2 linked regions of the Homo sapiens genome follow. The protein of the gene in region 1 purifies or fractionates together with the protein of each later gene. This does not show direct contact. Each region holds a gene or a part of one and is shown on either strand. Other genes may lie near its edges.

The links.
Region 2: the proteins of C21orf58 (region 1) and FAM199X purify together in Homo sapiens (affinity purification with mass spectrometry; one large-scale study listed by BioGRID and IntAct). This does not show direct contact.

The regions. Positions count from the first base shown.
Region 1 is NC_000021.9:46,300,350-46,303,795, reverse strand, and holds the end of C21orf58 (uncharacterized protein C21orf58), read left to right. Parts: intron 1-1,219; coding exon 1,220-1,311; intron 1,312-1,641; coding exon 1,642-1,797; 3' UTR 1,798-2,666; downstream 2,667-3,446.
Region 2 is NC_000023.11:104,193,187-104,196,486, reverse strand, and holds the end of FAM199X (protein FAM199X), read right to left. Parts: 3' UTR 585-3,300; downstream 1-584.

The sequences.
Region 1 (3,446 bases):
TCGGCGACAGAGCAAGACTCTGTCTCCAAAAAAAAAAAAAAAAAAAAAAATATATATATATATATATATATATATATATATATATATTTTGTGTGTGTGTGTGTGTGTGTGTGTGTGTAGAGATGAGGTCTTGCTATGACTGGTGTCAGCTCCTGGTCTCAAGGACTTCTCCTGTCTCGGTCTCCCAAAGTGCGAGCATCACAGGCATGAGCCACCGTGCCTGGCCTTATTGGCTACTTGAATATCCTTTTTTGTAAAGTGTCCATTTAAGTAATTTGCCCATTTTTCTTTCAGGTTGCCTGCCTCCCTTATTGGTTTCTAGGGATTCTTTATAATTTCTGTAATGAGCCCTTTTTTGATATGTGCATTTTGAGTGTTCCATCCTTCTTGTGGTTGCCTTTTCACTCTCTTCATGGTGTCTGTAGATGAACAGATATTTTATTATTTATTTTCTGGGGAGATAGTATCTTGCTCTGTTACCCAGGCTAGAGTGCAGGGGCATGATCATGGCTCACTACAGCCTCGAACTCCTGGGCTCAAGTGATCCTCCTGCCTCAGCCTCCTGAGTAGCTGGGACTACAGGCATGCACCACTACAACTGGCTTAGATGTTTTAATTTTTTTTTTTTCTTGAGACGGAGTTTCGCCCTGGTTGCCCAGGCTGGAGTACAGTGGCACGATCTTGGCTCACCGCAAGCTCTGCCTCTTGAGTTCAAGCGATTCTCATGCCTCAGCCTCCCAAGGAGCTGGGATTACAGGCTTGAACCACCACGCCTGGCTAATTTTTGTATTTTTAGTAGAGACTCAGGGCGCGCCCCGGGGACCCGCACCGTGTACAGACGGGCTCAGGGCGCGCCCCGGGGACCCGCACCGTGTGCAGACGGGCTCAGGGCGCGCCCCGGGGACCCGCACCGTGTGCAGACGGGCTCAGGGCGCGCCCCGGGGACCCGCACCGTGTGCAGACGGGCTCAGGGCGCGCCCCGGGGACCCGCACCGTGTGCAGACGGGCTCAGGGCGCGCCCCGGGGACCCGCACCGTGTGCAGACGGGCTCAGGGCGCGCCCCGGGGACCCGCACCGTGTGCAGACGGACTCAGAGCCTGCCCCGGGGACCTGCACAGTGTACAGACACACCTGTTCTCTGGTCCTATAATGCTCTATCACTTTAACAAATAGGAAAAACGGAAACTTTATTCAGGGTCCCCCTGCTTCTTCCCTGCAGACATGGTGGAGCTGCTGCTGCTGCAGAACGCACAGGTGCACCAGTTGGTCCTGCAGAACTGGATGCTCAAGGCCCTGCCCCCAGCCCTGCAGGTAGGCTTAGCCCCCAGCAGAACCCTAGGCCAAGGAAACAGGGCCTGGGTGGTTTTTCTTCTGGAAATTTCTGCATCTGTGTAGCTCTGAAAGGGCATTCCTGGCTCAGGTCTACAGTCTGGCTGTGAAGCCCCCATCCCCATCGAGTCCCAGCCCAGATGAGGAATGGGTTGCACAATTTGGGGCGGGGGAGGAGCCTCCTCTGGGAGGATGCTTAGACCCTGCCATCCTGCCTATCACATGGGATCCAGCCCCAGTTAGGAACAGGGCGGGAGTGGAGGTGGGGAGCAGCCTGGGCTGCGTCCTAAGCAGCAGGTGCGTCTGTGGCAGGACCCGCCACATGTGCCCCCGAGGGTCCCACGAGCTGCCAGGCCAAGGCTGCCTGCCGTGCACCACCACCACCACCACCACCATGCTGTGTGGCCACCTGGGGCTGCCACTGTCCTCCAGCCCGCCCCCAGCCTGTGGACGCCTGGCCCACCCTGAGTGTGAGTCACAGAGACCCTGGCCGGGGCACCCTCCACCCCCAGGCTTCCTCAGGGCTGTGGGCTGTGGCGGGACTATGGAAGGGAGCAGGGAGAGACCCTGCCACCACCCGGAGTGGCTACGCGAGTGTGGACTGCAGGCTCCTCCTGGGGAAGCTGGGCAGGCTCGCTTTCTGGTCACGGGGCCATTCCAGGGGGCATCCCTTGCTCCGGGTCCCCTGCAGTGAGGGGCCTGTGAACCCCACCAGGGCAACAGCCCCTCCCAGGGACCCCTCCTTTCCTGTAGGGCGGCGCCGGCCCACCTGGGAGCCTCAGATCCCCCTCTTCCATCACGGAGGTAAAGTTGAGGCCGTGGACGCCACCAGCCTGATGAAATAAAGATTTCATCCAGAAAGAGTTTAAGAAAATCTCAGCTCAGGAGCCAGAACAGAAAAGATCAATAGCTTTAGCCACATGGAAGTGTGAACATCCTGATGGGGAAAATACCACAAAGTCTAATTTAATAACTAGGGACACCTGTGTCCACAGCTGTGGCACAGACTCCCACTAAAGAAGTAGGGGTGCATGGCTCATGCCTGTAATCCCAGCACTTTAAGAGGCTGAGGCAGGAGGATCACTTGAGCTCAGGAATTCGAGACCAGCCTGGGTCACATAGCAAGACCCCGTCTCTACAAAAAATAAATTTAAAAAACTAGCCAGGTGTGGTGATATGCGCCTGTTATCTCAGCAGCTCTGGGGGCTGAGGTGGGAGGATTGCTTGAGCCCAGGAGTTAGAAGCTGCAGTGAGCTCTGATGGAACCACTGCACTATAGCCTGGACCACAGAGCAGGCCCCTGTCTCAAAAATAAAATAAAAAAGTGAAAGAAGCAAGCTGTGTATGACGTGATCCCTTTTGAGTTAATAAAAAAAAAAAAGGGAGAGTGCTAATGCTATAAATGCAGAAATCTCTACATGCTGGTTTGCACAGCTCTTGTTCCTGTAAAGCAAAGGTGAGTGCTGGGCAGTGGAAGGGCGGCTCACTCCCCTCAGTTCAGTTTCCTTCTGTGCTGTGGGGTTTCTTACCATGTGGACAGGCTACCTTGACTATTTCTTTTCTTTACTTTTTGTTACTTTTTTTTTTGGGTGCAATTATGTTTCTTTGCTCTTTTAATGTTGTTTACATATTTTTAAGTAGTATACATAAACTTTCATTCACCCCCTATTAGGACAGATTCTTTCATTCCTGAAGTTCCGCACAAGGAGGAACCCTGTCCCAGTGCTTCCATCTTTGAAAGTTTGCAGGTAGGAGACAGGATGACCAGAGAGTTGCCACTGAGCTGCAGAGCTCCCCAGGGACAGCCACCTGGTGCTGACATGGACGGGCAGGTGTGAACACCGAAGGGCCCAGCGCAGCTACTGGCAGTAACACTCACTTCTCTCAGAACCATCTTTTCGTGCCTCTTGAAGGTGATTCCAGAGACTCTGTGCTCTCGTTAAAAGCTCAAACCAAAGCTCAGACTCCATTTCCTCTTTTCAAGGTGACTTTCCAGCATGGCATTTCTTTCTTTCTATTAAAAATGTTTTTTTTTGAGACAGAGTTTTGCTCTTGTCGCCCAGGCTGGAGTGCAATGGAGCGATCTCGGCTCACTGCAAGCTCCGCCTCCCAGGTTC
Region 2 (3,300 bases), on another chromosome or scaffold:
AAAAATTAGCTGAGTGTGGTGACATGTGCCCGTGGTCCTAGCTACTTCGGAGGCTGAGGTGGGAGGACCGCTTGAGCCTGGGAGGTTAAAGCTGTTGTGGGTTATGATCACACCACTGCATACCAGCCTGAGTGACAGAGCGAGGCCCTGTCTCAAAAAAAAGAAAAAGTTTAATCTCCCTCTCACACCAATCACCTACAACAGTTAACTGTGGGCAGCAGTTTTTTAGCCACTAATTACTGTTCACTGATAAAATGATGATAATGATCACTACATAAACCAGCAAATCTCTAGAGCAGCACTGTCCAACAGAACTTTCTGTGATGATGGAAATGTTCTACATCTCATGCTTTTCAATACAGTAAATAGCCTGTAGCCACATGGTAGCTACTGGATACTTGAAGAATTGCTAAGGAGACTAAAGAACTACATTTTAAATTTTACTTAACTTTAATTCATTTAAATAGACATATGTGGCTAGTGACTACCATAATGGATAGTACATTATGCACTGCCCATTATGGTAGTCACTAGCCACATATGGAGCTCTAGAGTACCTAAGAGAAGAAACACACACACGCACATTTCACTTAGTATCTAACTCACATTTATTAAAAATTGAAGATTACAGAAAAGCATAAGATTGGCATCATTAAACAAGCTTAATTAACTTACCTTTGACTAATAAATGAAAATATTTAATAACACTAAAGGAATTTTGAGAATAAGTTCTATTCCAACCTTAGAAATTAAAAATAAAAGCAAAGCAGCTATTCTCCAAAGGAGAAAGCAACCACAGATCTCCCTCTAGTGGCAAAAGATAAAGTTGCTGCTGAAAAGCTGAATTGCTCCTCCATACATAGAACTGCTCAGACATTTCTTCTATAAAATTCTAACTTAAGATTCTAAATCAATATATAAGGAAAATAGATCTATTTTTTGTCAAAAAAAATTAGACCTACTGCCCAGTAATAGCATGGATTAAAAAAATTAGACAATTTTCACTTACTATGAATGCTAATCTCTCTAGAAATCTGCTCTCTCTAGAAATCTGATCTGTCCAGAAAAAAAAATAAGTTTTGCCAATGACATTTGGGTATCTGGGGCTTTCACCAAATAAAAGTTTATAAAGCCATAACCAAACTGTGAGAAACAGAAAAGGGAGCAGTTCTCCTCTGTTGGTAAATATTCTGGGATAGAGCATGAAAGGAGCTGACTCAGAAGTATAAAGTAGTAAGCAGCAGTGAGTGGGCTGTGTAACAACTCAGGGTACATCAAAAGAAATAATATATTATAAGAGTTCTTAACCAAAACAACACTTTTCATTCTGGTATTCAGTTTCAAAAGACAGCTCTGCCACATTGCCAGTTTTAATTACAACCATACACACTCATTTAGATTTCACTACTGAACTACTTTCAAGTACAAGAAGGAACTCAAAATAGAAACGACTTATGATACAACTATTGTTATTCCCTCACAGCTTCAGGGAAAACAGGCTTTATATACACTGTAGTAAGTACAGAATGTACAGAAGACAGTTATATATACAAAAGTGCATTAATATAGTAATATATTTAGCAGTAATACAGGAAAAAAAAATCCTGGTTAACAATCTGATACATTACAGTATTTAAAACTACTTGAAGATTCTCCAAACCAGTCAACTTCCTACTTGCTTTGGTTATGATATTGCTGCTACATAACTAATCTTTGAAACTAAAAAGCAAAAACAAAAACCCACAATTTGAAATTTTTACCCATATGTGAATTGTTTTGCATATACTTGTTTACCATTAATAGCCTTTGACAATAGTCCTTAAATTCCCAACACAAAGGTTCAGAATAGATAATACTTGTTAAGTGAGAGTACTCAAATAGGAAATTAAATGGATCCACTACAGGAACAGACATTATCTGCTCCATTGTTAAAAGCCTCAGCTAGATAACCTAACCACAAATGTCAATTTCAGTCTCAGTTTAAATCCAATAGGTCAGCTACTGTTAAAAGAGCCAGCAGCTCCACAAAACTAGTCATGGCTTCAGGCCACTGTTCCTTAGAACAATTTAGAATATTAAGTGTTAACTTGTTATTTATACATATAGTCTACAACTACCTTTACATAGTCAAATGTATATGCATAATTAGAGCAAGTCTCCCCTTTTTCACCCCCATCCCTCACCACAAAAATGAACACAGATTTCCACAGGTTTTGTTGGACACAAAGATGTAACAAAGAAATGTGACAATTAAAAAAAGTACTACATACAGAATTTAGAGAAGATCAAACAAGCTTTTCTGAGTTCGGTATGAGTGTCAAATTAAAATTTAATTTGCCATTATATGCTCTAGGTTAAAACAGTAATTACCTTAATTTAAAAAATAACTAGAGGGAGAGCCAAAAAGAAATAATTTTAATGTTAAAAAAATAAGAAAATAAAATTTCAGTGAGTCAACTCAGATCTTCAGCAGTACCATTCAACTTCCTTACTCTTAATGGCCAGTTAGAAGAATTTTCAGAATTCCTTCTAAGGCTTCTGGAATAAGTAACTTATTTTCCAAAGAAATAAGACCTAAGCATTATAAGTAGTTATGTTCCGGATACTATGCTAACAAAGATGCCTAGCTTAAAATATCTCAGTTTTTATTCACTTAGCATAATTTTATTTTTAAGACAAAGTTTATCTTACTTTATCAGACTTAAAATGAATCCAAAGTTACCACAGTACATATGTATACAAATACTTATTTCCTAACTAACAGTCCTTTCAGAATTAAATTTACTTCTAGTTCAGACATGCTGAATGAGTCAGTGCCCTCAACATCAACACTATTATTTGAATGCAACTGGGGATTTTCCTATTAATTGTCCCAAACTATAAACGGACTGCGAGTACCCTTCAATTCCAAACAAATGTTTTTCCTTGAAGACAGAAGTGCTAAAAGTTCATTTGTTAAAGGAAAGAAGAGGAGTGTGTTCCAGCTATTACACAAATGAGTTCAAAGAATTCCTAGAGAATCAACTTGCTACATAATCTCTGTCCTTGAAGTGCTTTTGCCTATACCTTGAAAATTATCTTTCTAGATATTAAAAGTGATCTGGTTTGAAGAAGTATCCTGGCATATGATCTTTTTCAGAGGGAAAAAAATACATTAAGCCATACTTTAGATAACTTTCAAGGCTCTTCAATGATCTAGCTAGGCCGAAAATAAAGTTACACAAATGAAACTTAAAATTTGAAGGTTTTTGTTTTTATACTCTATTAGCATTGATTGGTTCGATTTAATGGCTTTGCTTA